4 linked regions of the Homo sapiens genome follow. The protein of the gene in region 1 interacts with the protein of each later gene in a biochemical or structural test. Each region holds a gene or a part of one and is shown in the gene's direction. Other genes may lie near its edges.

Region 1 (3,500 bases):
GTGGTGAGAGAGGGCATCCCTGTCTTGTGCCCGTTTTCAAAGGGAATGCTTCCAGTTTTTGCCCATTCAGTATGATATTGGCTGTGGGTTTGTCATAGATAGCTCTTATTATTTTGAAATAGGTCCCATCAATACCTAATTTATTGAGAGTTTTTAGCATGAAGGGTTGTTGAATTTTGTCAAAGGCTTTTTCTGCATCTATTGAGATAATCATGTGGTTTTTGTCTTTGGCTCTGTTTATATGCTGGATTACATTTATTGATTTGCGTATATTGAACCAGCCTTGCATCCCAGGGATGAAGCCCACTTGATCATGGTGGATAAGCTTTTTGATATGCTGCTGGATTCGTTTTGCCAGTATTTTATTGAGGATTTTTGCATCAATGTTCATCAAGGATATTGGTCTAAAATTCTCTTTTTTTGTTGTGTCTCTGCCCGGCTTTGGTATCAGAATGATGCTGGCCTCATAAAATGAGTTAGGGAGGATTCCCTCTTTTTCTATTGATTGGAATAGTTTCAGAAGGAATGGTACCAGTTCCTCCTTGTACCTCTGGTAGAATTCCGCTGTGAATCCATCTGGTCCTGGACTCTTTTTGGTTGGTAAGCTATTGATTATTGCCACAATTTCAGATCCTGTTATTGGTCTATTCAGAGATTCAGCTTCTTCCTGGTTTAGTCTTGGGAGAGTGTATGTGTTGAGGAATTTATCCATTTCTTCTAGATTTTCTAGTTTATTTGTGTAGAGGTGTTTGTAGTATTCTCTGATGGTAGTTTGTATTTCTGTGGGATCAGTGGTGATATCCCCTTTATCATTTTTTATTGCGTCTATTTGATTCTTCTCTCTTTTCTTCTTTATTAGTCTTGCTAGCGGTCTATCTATTTTGTTGATCTTTTCAAAAAACCAGCTCCCGGATTCATTGATTTTTTGAAGGGTTTTTTTGTGTCTCTATTTCCTTCAGTTCTGCTCTGATCTTAGTTATTTCCTGCCTTCTGCTAGCTTTTGAATGTGTTTGCTCTTGCTTCTCTAGTTCTTTTAATTGTGATATTAGGGTGTCAATTTTAGATCTTTCCTGCTTTCTCTTGAGGGCATTTAATGCTATAAATTTCCCTCTACACACTGCTTTGAATGTGTCCCAGAGATTCTGGTATGTTGTGTGTTTGTTCTCATTGGTTTCAAAGAACATCTTTATTTCTGCCTTCATTTCGTTATGTACCCAGTAGTCATTCAGGAGCAGGTTGTTCAGTGTCCATGTAGTTGAGTGATTTTGAGTGTTTCTTAATCCTGAGTTCTAGTTTGATTGCACTGTGGTCTGAGAGATAGTTTGTTATAATTTCTGTTCTTTTACATTTGCTGAGGAGAGCTTTACTTCCAACTATGTGGTCAATTTTGGAATAGGTGTGGTGTGGTGCTGAAAAAAATGTATATTCTGTTGATTTGGGGTGGAGAGTTCTGTAGATGTCTATTAGGTCCACTTGGTGCAGAGCTGAGTTCAATTCCTGGGTATCCTTGTTGACTTTCTGTCTCGTTGATCTGTCTAATGTTGACAGTGGGGTGTTAAAGTCTCCCATTATTAATGTGTGGGAGTCTAAGTCTCTTTGTAGGTCACTCAGGACTTGCTTTATGAATCTGGGTGCTCCTGTATTGGGTGCATATATATTTAGGATAGTTAGCTCTTCTTGTTGAATTGATCCCTTTACCATTATGTAATGGCCTTCTTTGTCTCTTTTGATCTTTGTTGGTTTAAAGTCCGTTTTATCAGAGACTAGGATTGCAACCCCTGCCTCTTTTTGTTTTCCATTTGCTTGGTAGATCTTCCTCCATCCTTTTATTTTGAGCCTATGTGTGTCTCTGCACGTGAGATGGGTTTCCTGAATACAGCACACTGATGGGTCTTGACTCTTTATCCAATTTGCCAGTCTGTGTCTTTTAATTGGAGCATTTAGTCCATTTACATTTAAAGTTAATATTGTCATGTGTGAATTTGATCCTGTCATTATGATGTTAGCTGGTGATTTTGCTCGTTAGTTGATGCAGTTTCTTCCTAGTCTCAATGGTCTTTACATTTTGGCATGATTTTGCAGCTGCTGGTACCGGTTGTTCCTTTCCATGTTTAGTGCTTCCTTCCGGAGCTCTTTTAGGGCAGGCCTGGTGGTGACAAAATCTCTCACCATTTGCTTGTCTGTGAAGTATTTTATTTCTCCTTCACTTATGAAGCTTAGTTTGGCTGGATATGAAATTCTGGGTTGAAAATTCTTTTCTTTAAGAATGTTGAATATTGGCCCCCACTCTCTTCTGGCTTGTAGGGTTTCTGCCGAGAGATCCGTTGTTAGTCTGATGGGCTTCCCTTTGAGGGTAACCCGACCTTTCTCTCTGGCTGCCCTTAACATTTTTTCCTTCATTTCAACTTTGGTGAATCTGACAATTATGTGTCTTGGAGTTGCTCTTCTCGAGGAGTATCTTTGTGGCGTTCTCTATATTTCCTGAATCTGAACGTTGGCCTGCCTTGCTAGATTGGGGAAGTTCTCCTGGATAATATCCTGCAGAGTGTTTTCCAACTTGGTTCCAATCTCCCCATCACTTTCAGGTACACCAATCAGACGTAGATTTGGTCTTTTCACATAATCCCATATTTCTTGGAGGCTTTGCTCATTTCTTTTTATTCTTTTTTCTCTAAACTTCCCTTCTCGCTTCATTTCATTCATTTCATCTTCCATTGCTGATACCCTTTCTTCCAGTTGATCGCATCGGCTCCTGAGGCTTCTGCATTCTTCACGTAGTTCTCGAGCCTTGGTTTTCAGCTCCATCAGCTCCTTTAAGCACTTCTCTGTATTGGTTATTCTAGTTATACATTCTTCTAAATTTTTTTCAAAGTTTTCAACTTCTTTGCCTTTGGTTTGAATGTCCTCCTGTAGCTCAGAGTAATTTGATCGTCTGAAGCCTTCTTCTCTCAGCTCATCAAAGTCATTCTCCATCCAGCTTTGTTCCGTTGCTGGTGAGGAACTGCGTTCCTTTGGAAGAGGAGAGGCGCTCTGCGTTTTAGAGTTTCCAGCTTTTCTGTTCTGTTTTTCCCCCATCTTTGTGGTTTTATCTATTTTTGGTCTTTGATGATGGTGATGTACAGATGGGTTTTCGGTGTGGATGTCCTTTCTGTTTGTTAGTTTTCCTTCTAACAGACAGGACCCTCAGCTGCAGGTCTGTTGGAATACCCTGCCGTGTGAGGTGTCAGTGTGCCCCTGCTGGGGGGTGCCTCCCAGTTAGGCTGCTCGGGGGTCAGGGGTCAGGGACCCACTTGAGGAGGCAGTCTGCCGGTTCTCAGATCTCCAGCTGCGTGCTGGGAGAACCACTGCTCTCTTCAAAGCTGTCAGACAGGGACACTTAAGTCTGCAGAGGTTACTGCTGTCTTTTTGTTTGTCTGTGCCCTGCCCCCAGAGGTGGAGCCTACAGAGGCAGGCAGGCCTCCTTGAGCTGTGGTGGGCTCCACCCAGTTCGAGTTCCTGGC
Region 2 (3,500 bases), on another chromosome or scaffold:
TATTTCTGAGTCTTTTTTGCTGATAGACTTGTTCTGGGATGACTTAGTAGGGGCCATTACTTTTACTTCTGTGTACTTTTAAAGTTGTCTAGTAAGATGAAGCTTTTCACAGTATTTGTGATAGTTTGCTAGTTTCCTTTTGGAAAATTTTGAGAAATTAATGTTGCCTGAAGTTACTAATTTCAGTTCTAAGATTTTGCATATTGTTTTGTATTCCAAGACTTGTAAAGGGTGACAGGAAAATCTTTAGAGTATGGAAACTGAGCTCAAGATCTCATAAATAATGCTTTCAAGTACATCACACTCTGTAATGTAGAATGGAGCATTAGAAAAGGAAAATAGATGCGTAAAACTTGAAACCATAGGAGGTAAATTTACTCTTGTAATTAAATATCAGTTTTCTTATTTCATCATATTTGGGAATTCATCGAGTGCCTCTTGAGTCTTTAATGAGAAACGGGTAGCAGGTATCAGAACCTAATATTAGCTCTCATGCATCTTAGTCACTTGTTTTAGTCTTTTGTAAATGACATATGGCAAAATGATCTGTTTAGAGAGGTGTGGTGCTCACCTTTTTTTTTTCATTTTTACACATGTGAAGAATTTGATAAATATTCATATCAGAATAGCTCAGAGAATGTCAGTGGTTCTTATGGAGTAGTAGTAAGGCTTGACAAGCCCAGCAGGGGATTTTGATATCTCCCTCTCATGTACTCAGCCTAGGGTACCCTTTTTCATTTTTCCTCATATATTCTGTCCCACACAACTGCCAATAAGTAGTAAATGGCCAAAAGTTAGACATAGTGGTAAAGAAGCAAAACCTATGTTTCATAGTTTAGCTTGATGTTAAGTGGTTTTTAATGTAGTTGTTTCTGTTTTCTTAGGAAATATGGAAATATTTTTGTGCCATACCTCCTTTTTGGGTAATGTGACTTGTCATTGGCCTTTAGGTTTTAACAGGTGACTTTGGATCTTTTCCATAAGCCCTAGGGCTTAGGTCCTCAGAGATTTTGGAAGAACAGCTGTCACCTCCGGCTCCCCTCCATTTCTCCAACCTTTTACATATACTGTGTAATTTTAATTTCCTTTGCCCCTTCTTTAAACAAACCCTAAAAAGACGAAACGTATGCTTTGCATTAAGAGTTGGGCATATGCCTAGGAAACAAGCTTTCTGAGCAAACTTAATATAGGTAACTTAGTTTTTTTTGAAGCCATGTATTACATCTCAAAGCCCTGAACTGCAAGTTTAGAGATCTGGGTTCGTTTCAAATTTTTATTAGCTGGTAACCTTGATTATGTTATTTAATCTTTCTGATTTATAATTATAGGATCTATAAAAAGGCGATACCTGCCATGCCTATTTTATAGGATTGTTATAAAGTGCAAATAAGAAAACATTTTGAAAATAAAGACATTATGAAGTTGTAAGGTATTATCCTTCAGCATTTGTTCAGCAAACATTGAATACCTGCTATGTGCTAGGTACTTTACTGGGGTTACAAAAATGGGTGACATGTAGTCTGGTTTTTTATAAACTTGCAGTCATGGAAGGATGCAGATATGTAATCAGAAAATTGCAATACAGTGCAGTGTGATAAGGTGCAGTAATCAAGCCCGTTGCAAGGCAGAGTTGTGGTCTGTGTTACCTCTTTTGAAGAAGTGGAAAATACTGGGATGAGTAAGAAGGCACTGGCAGAAAGTGAACTTGATAATGAGTCAGAGATCAGGTAATGAAGGACTTTGTATGCTAAGGGATTTAGAAGTTTGGTCTTCATTTGTAGACCTGCATTTCTCAGTGTCCTCTGAAAATCTAGTTTCATGAGATGGTGTCACAGGGATGTTGACTGCTGAGGACGGAGGATAGTGTTTTTTGGTAAAGTGTTAGGCACACACTATTATTGTTATTAGACTCCTCAGTGCTTATATAATGCGAATAGTGTATTTTGTGAATATGGAGGGTGAAGTTAGGTGGCTGCAGCATGCAGTATTTTCCACACTTATTCCGTGTGCACCACCTTTTTTCCTAAGAACATCTAAGGCACAATTGAGGGAAATGCTGTTTATGTTGGGGAGGTACTGGTGAATTTTAAGCTGCGACATAGTACATGATCAGATTTTTAATTGTCAAGAAAATTCTGGCAGCAGGGACTGGGGTGTATTGGAAGACAAGAAAGTTGAAGAAGGGATACTTGCAACGGAAGCTCTTGCTGGATGTCGGGAAATAAATGATGAGAGTTTGAAGTGCCAATAGAGCAGGAAGGGGCAAATTTTAGACATATTTAGGAGTTAGTTTCAGGGAACTTTGAAGACTGATCAGATGTGGAACAAGGTTTAGTTAGGGAGGGAGGAGTCTAGGATGATTTCCAGGTTCTTGACATACCAGCTAGAATTAACAGAGGTAAGGAATTCAGGATGGAAGAGTAGGTCGCAGGCTTATTTATTTGTAAGGACTCACTTAAAATGTCTCCCATTTCTGAACCCAATGATGTACTTTGACTTTCAGCACTTAGTTCACTTTAGGATACAAAAATGTATAGTGTAAAAATAAGTCTTTAATTAATTCATTGTTTTGTTTTCCTTTTTCAGTTAGGGCCTAGTCAAAATTTTGAAGCTGAGTCAATTCAAGATAATGCGCATATGGCAGAGGGCACAGGTTTCTATCCCTCAGAACCCATGCTCTGTAGTGAATCGGTGGAAGGGCAAGTGCCACATTCATTAGAGACCTTGTATCAATCAGCTGACTGTTCTGATGCCAATGATGCCTTGATAGTGTTGATACATCTTCTCATGTTGGAGTCAGGTTACATACCTCAGGTAAGTACTGCAAGCAAAACACAGACATCTTATGATTGCTCATACATGTGGATGGTTCCTGCTCTCAAGTTGCCCGTAGTCTGAGAGTGGCAGAGAGAGACAAAAATATAAAGCACTGTGCTATATTGGTGAAGTTCTGGGAGAAACATACTCATATATAGGATGCCAGGAATTCATGGAGGAGAACATTTAGAATATTGCTTCTCAAACTTTAATGCGCTTTGGAATACCTGGGGACCTTATTAAAATGCAGATTCTGATTTAGTAACTGTAGAATGGACCGTGAACTTCTTCATACTCCTGCATAATACCAATGTTGCTGGTCTGTGAGCCATGTTATAAGTTACAAAGATACAGAGTAGTTCGGTGATCAGTGCACACCTGCAGCATGCCATGCACTGACCTAGAAATTAGGATATAAAAATATTGGGATATTTCTTGTCTTCAAGGAGTCCATACATAGAGGAGAGAGATGAATAAAAAGATACTCAGAAATAACACAGGTAAACATAGATAATAATACAATTGAAGTGTAATGGAAATATGAATAGAATGCTAGGGGATGAAAGGAAATGGCAAACAATTTTTCTTTGAAAAAGGCTTTACGGAGGAAGTGATATTTGAGCCGGAGTTTTAAATAATCATATGGCTTTGCTAGGAGAGAAGTGAGTCTTTGAAGAGAGAGA
Region 3 (3,500 bases), on another chromosome or scaffold:
AGGAAGAGAGAAGGTGACATTATGAAGGAGTAATTATATATAAGAATTTTTTTAAAAGCTAGTCTGATTGCCAGCTAAAATGGTCTCCTAGGGGTTATTCTGGTTTCTGTTTTGTGTCAAGGTTTTTTTGGTCGGATATGCCGTAGTGCCTGCTCCATCTCTGGAGTTTGTTTCCTATTAGGAAGGGACTTTGTTTGCCTGAGGGAGCTGGCACATGCTGGACGTTGGTGCCATGACCCATCTGAGTCACATTCCTGACCTCTAGGGCCTAATAGTTGGCCCCATGCCTGCTCCTCTTGGGCCACACACCCTGGGCTCTGTTGTTGAAAGCCTCCTTTATGTGCTCTAGGCTCCCAGAACCCTGGCCGAAGCTCACCTCCCCCTGGCTATGTTCCTGAGCGGCAGCAGCACATTGCCCGGCAGGGGTCCTACACCAGCATCAACAGTGAGGGGGAGTTCATCCCAGAGACCAGCGAGCAGTGCGTGAGTATAGGGGGGCTGGGATATGCCTGTGGCCTGTATCAGCAGACCAAGCTCATAACAAGGGGTTCTTAGTAGTCACAGTGCAGAACTGAGGGACATGAACCCCATTTGAAAGCTCTTTTATAAACCAGGCCTGCCCAAATATGGATTGTCCCTTTTTAAGGGCCAAATAACAATTTCTGCCAAAGATGGGATCTAAAGGATCTAAACTACATAGTTTCCTTGTTGTTGGGTGAGGATTTAACAGATTTTTCTTCATCGTGGTCCTCTCATTGTTCCTACAGGCAGGCACCACCACGCCCAGCTCATTTCAGTAGTGTTTTAACATACGACTGGTTCTAAAGTGACAGGTTATGTTTTTCATTGGATATATTTTAGTTTTGCTGTTTCTTGATGAAAGGTAAGGAGTAAACCATATCAAAATTACACTGTAGGATTGGTTAGGCTGATCATTTATGATGGTAGACAGTTGTATTAGTTATCTATTGCTCCATAACAAATTACCACAAACCTAGAGGCTTAAAACAATATACATTTATCATTTTCCAGTTTCCCTGGGTGAGGAGTCCAGGCATGACTCAAATGGGTCCTCTGCTGAGGGTCACACAAGACTGCGATCAAGGTGTCAGCCAGGCTGCCTGCCTTTCTTGAGTTTGAGGCTCTTTTCTAAGCTCAGATGGTTGTTGCCAGAATTCAGTTTTTTTGTGGCTGTAGGACTGTGGTTCCTCTTTTCTTCTGAATGTCACCCAAGGGCTTCTCTGAGTTCCCTTCCTAGAGGCCACCTGCAGTTCCTTGCCATGGGGCCCTCTCACAACATGGCAGCTTCTTCAAAGCCAGCAGGAGAATCTTTTGCTCCAATCTGCAAAGATGGAGTCATAAAACATCACATAATCATAGGAATGAATATTCTATCCTCTTTGCCATAGTCTATTGGCTAGACTCACGTCACAGGTTCTACTTGCACTAAAGGGAAAGGCAGTTCATTGGGACTAATTGGAAGAGGGAGCAATCACCTTAGGGTGTGTCTACCACAGTGGCTCAGCCATTTTAGTGGCTAGCTTTTAAATTGGTGGCTTACTTGATGCAAATGGCAATTTGGCTTAGTGAACTCACCAAGCATGAGATCTCTAGCTTCATTCTGGTCTTTTCAATAAACTTGCTTTGATGTAAAAGAAAAGGCTGCTCTTACACTTTCTGGGCTTGGCCTGAGAAGGGGAAATTTCTTAAGGGGAAAATGTCCAACAGAAGGGCCTGTGCTGTCACATGGGAGATCTTATAAAAAGCTGATTCTTGTAACTTTTCTTTCATTATTCAAACTATGTAGGCTATGAGAAGCCCTTTGTACTCTTCTTCCTTCTATACTCCTGCCTTCCAGATAAATTCATGTTTGGAGTAGTGACCTGGAGTGCCATTAGCTGCAGATTTCCTTTTTGGGCATTTTACTGACCATCCTTTCTGGTTTCTCTAACCAGGGCACTTCTGGACATCAGCTGTTCTAGGGGTGACTTGGGTGTAAAATCCCAGAGATTGCAGATGAGCTTGATTGCCCTCAGTCTATGTCCCTCGCCATGGTCCTATACTCTGCCCCCTTCACTTTTTTACTTTGCCTGCATGGCCCTGGAAGGCCTGGGAGGATTTGACTCCCAGTGAGGACAGACTTTTAGAAAGAGGCCAAGGAAGGCAGTGGTTGGGGATTGCCAAGGTCCTCCCCCAGCGCCTGCCTCTTTAGCTGAAGAGAATTGCTCCTGGTAACAGGCCATTTGAGATCAATCTGCTTAACAGGAACGAACACTGCATAGTATGTAATAAAAGAATATTCCAGTGTGACTTTACTGAAAAGTGAAAATATGATAAGTTTTGTTTTTTCTTTAATCAGGTTTAAGCAATAATTGCATCTATTTACTAATTTTTAGAATGAGCAAAGCATGATTCATGTTAATTTTTTGGCCTAATTTTTCCAACAAAAATTATGTCAGTCCGGTCGCAGTGGCTCATAGCTGTAATCCCAGCACTTTGGGAGGCCAAGGCAGGAGGATTGCTTGAGGTCAGGAGTTCAAGACCAGCCTGGGCAACATAGCAAAACCCTGTCTCTACAAAAAAAAAAAATTTAATTAGCTGGGCATAGTGGCACACCTGCCTGTAGTCCCAGCTACTCGGGAGGCTGAGGTGGGAGGATCACTTGAGCCCAGGCTGCAGTGAATTGCACTCCAGCTTAGGTGACAGAATGAGACCCTGTCTCGAACAACAGCACCAACAACAAAATGCTAGCACAATGTAACGTCCTTCACTCCCTGCTTGACTTCTAACCATAAAGAACGTCATTTTTTACAAGAGCGTTCACAGGACTCAGCAGTTTTCCCCAAGGCCTCTTGTGAATCTTTGGTATTCTTCCTCCACCACACCTGCCATGTTATTTATTTGTCCATTTTGTCTTTTTCTGTTAACTAGTCTAAATTTGCCAAATATGCATCTGATGGATTTAAAGCAATTCTCTCCGATGTTGGTTTCATCCACTTTGGCTATCCTATATCCTTAGCAACATTTGCAGTTTTACTTTGCAATTAATTTGCCTTGATTGGCAGATTTTAAAAAATCATGTGTGACAACATGACTTAAAGCATTTGAAATTATGGGTGGGGATGGACCCTGGTATTAAATGGGAAAAAATATTTGAGTTGGAAACTAATTTTATGGAGGTCGTTAGTGAATTTTCATAATTCTGATACTTTGTTTCCCTATGTAATTTTTTAAAATTAATTAAAAAAATATTTAAACAGAAACAAGATCTCACTATGTTGCCCAGGCTGGTCTTGAACTCCTGAGTGCAAGTGATCCTTCCCTCTCGGCTCCCAAAGTGCTAGGATTACAGGCATGAGCCACCAAGTCTGGCCCCTATGTAATGTTTAATGTTGGAGCTCGGATAATGAATATTCTGAAATTGAAGACCCCACCCCAACTTTTGTGCAGAGAAAATGAAAGGGAGGACCTTCAGGACATTGATTGGAGAAAAAGGGATT
Region 4 (3,500 bases), on another chromosome or scaffold:
CTGGTCACCCTGCATGGCCCGGATGGGAGCCCTGTGCTTGGAATTTGGCTCAGCTAGGCTCCCTGGTCAGCGTATGGCCGGGTCCACATGTAGGAGCCACGGCCTAGAGAGGCCTAAACCCTCACCCGAGCCAGAGGCCACAGGGCTGGAGAGGCCGCAGCACGGGTGTGGTTTCCACGGGAGGCTCCAGGCCCGTCTCTGCTCAGCAGGGTGTGCCAGGCCCGAGGGAGCACCCTGGACAGCCTGAGGACAGCCCCGAGGCTGAGGCCTCCACCCTGGATGTGTTCACGGAGAGGCTGCCGCCCAGCGGGAGGATCACCAAGACAGAGTCCCTTGTCATCCCCTCCACCAGGTGATGGGGGCTGCACGGCGGGGCGGGGCGGTGATGCACCTGTCGGGGGAGGGGCCGTCACGGGCATCAGTCGGGGTGGGTGCGTGTCAGTCCATCCTGATGAGCTCCCTCGGGTGTAGACAGCAGATTCAGGGCCTCGTCCTTCTTAAAAAGGAGAAGCAAACCCCCTGGCCCGGCATTGGGTGTCAAGCCTGCAGCCCCAGATTCCACCCTACCTGTTTGAGGGCAGGGTCAGGCGGGTCTGCCCTCCAGCAGGTGCCCCCACATCCCCCTGAGTAGCCCCTGCCTCAGCCAAAAGACACACATACACCAGCTTGATTCTTCCAGGATTTCAATTTCATGTTTCTGTGATATTTGGGACTTTTTCCAAAGCAGCGAGTCTGGGCACTGGTTTTTACCTTGTGGTGGCACGCAGGTGCCTGTGTCCGCGCTTTGGAGCCAGGTCGCCCTGGCAGCCTCAGTGCCCTGCACTGGCCTGCACCTGGCTCTGCCCAGCTCTTGGCCCGGGCAGGGAGGGTGAGCTCAGTCCTCACGGTGGCTCCAAGCCTCCTGGCCTGGCTCGAAGTCTCACAGGCAGAGCTGTGTGGGGTCCCATCGGAGGCACGGCCTCACTTGTACTCAGCTGCTGCTGTGGCCCTCCCAGGGCTGGTGACCTCTCTGTGCAGCCCATGTTCCCACTGCCCATCAGTCAGCCCTGTGCTCACCCTTCCCTGTCCCCACCACAATGTGTAGGCCACTGCAGGCCTGCCCCTGCCTCTGCCCCTGTTCCTGTTCCTGCTGCCACAGCCACTTAGCCTGTCCTGGTCCCCAATAGGTCCGAGGGGAAGCAGGCTGGCCGACGGGGCCGGAGCACATCCTTGAAGGAGCGGCAGGCAGCACGGCCCCAGAATGAGCGGGCCAACAGCCTGGACAACGAGCGCTGCCCGGACGCCCGGAGCCAGCTACAGGTGCAGCTGCAGGTGGGGGTGGAGGGCGTGGCACGCCCAGGAGGCAGGGCTCGTGGTCACCCTGGCACCAACCAGAGCAGGGCAAAAAGAGAAGCACAGGGGGCCAAGGGTGCTGGGCCACAGAGCATGCCTGGGCTTTGGAGGGCTCCTGCTACACAGCAGGGCGGGCGGGCCATGGGTTGGTTTGTCAGGAAGACCATGTGGACCCCAGGGCAAGTTCTAGTCCTTCTGCTGCCCTCCCTGGTCCAGGGCAGCCTCATTGCTTGGCTGATTTAGCCCAGGGCAGTTCTCCAAGCTGGCCAGCTCTCTTCCTGCCACCGAGCCTCTGTGGCTGCAGGGGGAGCAGGGGCACTGCAGGCACCAGGGCTGGCGTGGTGGGGATGGGCGCTGTGCTTCTCTTCTGGGTGTGGACAGGGCTCTGTGCCTCCAGATCCCCAGGAAGACTGTGTATGACCAGCTCAACCACATCCTCATCTCCGATGACCAGCTTCCCGAAAACATCATCCTTGTCAACACCTCGGACTGGCAGGGGCAGGTAGAGGGGCAGTCTCTTGGAGTGGAGGGTCAGGGTGTAGGACAGAGGAGAGTGGGTTCCTGAAGCTGCCCCCTACCCGGCACACCTGGGTGCTGGAGCTGCTGGCTGTGGTTTGCCTGGACGTGCCTGGGGTCTCTGGAGCCCCTGAGAGCTTTGGTGAGGGTCAGGTGCTGGGGGTGGCCTGGGCGGCTGTGCCGAAGTCAGCGTCTGCCTGTCTTCTGCCAGTTCCTCTCCGACGTCCTGCAGAGGCACACGCTCCCCGTGGTGTGCACGTGCTCTCCTGCGGACGTCCAGGCGGCCTTCAGCACCATCGTCTCACGGATACAGAGATAGTGAGTTGGGCTCCACCCTGTACTCACCACCCAAGTACCCCTCGGGGTCCCTGCACCCCCACCTCTGCCCATTGCTCCGGGGCTAGGTGCGTCCTGGACCTGGGGCTGTGGCTGGTGTCCACAGAGGCTGACCCATGCGCTCTTCGCAGCCTGGCCTCCCCTCAGTTGTGGGCGGGAGCAGCAGCCTGGTGGGTGTCCTGCCACACTGGAGTGGTGGCCTCCTGGCCTGTCCTTGGAAGCCTGGGCTGAGGCCATGACTGTGTGGTCCCTCAGCCTGGGCACGTTTGGGCATGTGGGGGTCCTGGGCTTGGGCAGCTCCAGGGCAGTTGTGGCATGAGCGGCCACAGGCACGGAGCCCCCTGGGCTCACACTGGCATCCTTGGATGGAGGACGGCTCCCCTGAGGCGTCTGTCCCCTCTCCGTCCCACCTGCCTCTGGATTGCAGCTGCAACTGCAATTCCCAGCCCCCGACCCCCGTGAAGATCGCCGTGGCGGGAGCGCAGCATTACCTCAGTGCCATCCTGCGGCTCTTTGTGGAGCAGCTGTCCCACAAGACACCCGACTGGCTCGGCTACATGCGCTTCCTGGTCATCCCACTGGGTGAGCACCACGCCGTCCACCTGGGCCTGGGCACAGATGCCACGGGCAGTGTGGCGTGGCATGGAGTGGTGTGGCGTGGCGTGGCGTGTTGTGTGGCGTGGCGTGGCGCGGTGTGTCGTGGTGTGGCGCGGTGTGGCATGGCGTGGTGTCCCTGCTTGCTACACATTTGTTGTTTTTAAATGTTTGTTTGATACAGTAACACTTTGTTAATTTTAATTATATGCAAGATAACTTGATTGCCCTAAAACAGCCATTTGGGTCAAGATAAAGCCATCGCCCTCTGAAGGGGCCTGAGCTGGGTGTCTCCTCCATCAGTCGCTGTGATAACTCTATGCCAGTTTCGATTTCCAAAGTCAGAAGTGCAAAGCAGGGCTCGTTATTAATCCTCTCAAATCGTCCAGGTCCTGTGTCGTCGAACTCCATTACTTCTTTAGGTCCATACGATGTGTCTTACCACGAAACAAACCCACCCAGCCTTAATCTGTTGACCAGCAGCAAGGCCTGGAGGCGACACCTCTCCCGTGTGGCCCTCACGATGCCGACGTCAGAGCCCTGAGCCAGCCGAGGCCTCTGCACGGTCACATGTGCCCTGCTGGGCCTTCCTCAGTGGCACTCAGGGCTCTGGGACCTCAGCTCAGGGCTGGAGCTCCTTCAGCGGGGCCACAGGCATCCACCAGGGAGGGGCAGTGGTGGCTTTCTCTTTCGGTGGCAGGAAAGTGGGCTTGTCTGGAAGG

Evidence for each region.
Region 2: of the proteins of BIRC2 (region 1) and FBXO7, one has a biochemical effect on the other in vitro, tested with the Homo sapiens proteins (one study listed by BioGRID).
Region 3: of the proteins of BIRC2 (region 1) and MAP3K3, one has a biochemical effect on the other in vitro, tested with the Homo sapiens proteins (one study listed by BioGRID).
Region 4: the proteins of BIRC2 (region 1) and PACS2 form a complex in vitro, tested with the Homo sapiens proteins (one study listed by BioGRID).

The regions. Positions count from the first base shown.
Region 1 is NC_000011.10:102,371,214-102,374,713, forward strand, and holds part of BIRC2 (baculoviral IAP repeat-containing protein 2), read left to right. Parts: intron 1-3,500. UniProt on the Homo sapiens protein: Multi-functional protein which regulates not only caspases and apoptosis, but also modulates inflammatory signaling and immunity, mitogenic kinase signaling, and cell proliferation, as well as cell invasion and metastasis.
Region 2 is NC_000022.11:32,481,311-32,484,810, forward strand, and holds part of FBXO7 (F-box only protein 7), read left to right. Parts: intron 1-2,586; coding exon 2,587-2,814; intron 2,815-3,500. UniProt on the Homo sapiens protein: Substrate recognition component of a SCF (SKP1-CUL1-F-box protein) E3 ubiquitin-protein ligase complex which mediates the ubiquitination and subsequent proteasomal degradation of target proteins and plays a role in several biological processes such as cell cycle, cell proliferation, or maintenance of chromosome stability.
Region 3 is NC_000017.11:63,681,417-63,684,916, forward strand, and holds part of MAP3K3 (mitogen-activated protein kinase kinase kinase 3), read left to right. Parts: intron 1-349; coding exon 350-483; intron 484-919; exon of another isoform or gene 920-1,342; intron 1,343-3,500. UniProt on the Homo sapiens protein: Component of a protein kinase signal transduction cascade. Mediates activation of the NF-kappa-B, AP1 and DDIT3 transcriptional regulators.
Region 4 is NC_000014.9:105,380,748-105,384,247, forward strand, and holds part of PACS2 (phosphofurin acidic cluster sorting protein 2), read left to right. Parts: intron 1-206; coding exon of another isoform or gene 207-209; coding exon 210-352; intron 353-1,166; coding exon 1,167-1,311; intron 1,312-1,729; coding exon 1,730-1,834; intron 1,835-2,059; coding exon 2,060-2,166; intron 2,167-2,611; coding exon 2,612-2,766; intron 2,767-3,500. UniProt on the Homo sapiens protein: Multifunctional sorting protein that controls the endoplasmic reticulum (ER)-mitochondria communication, including the apposition of mitochondria with the ER and ER homeostasis.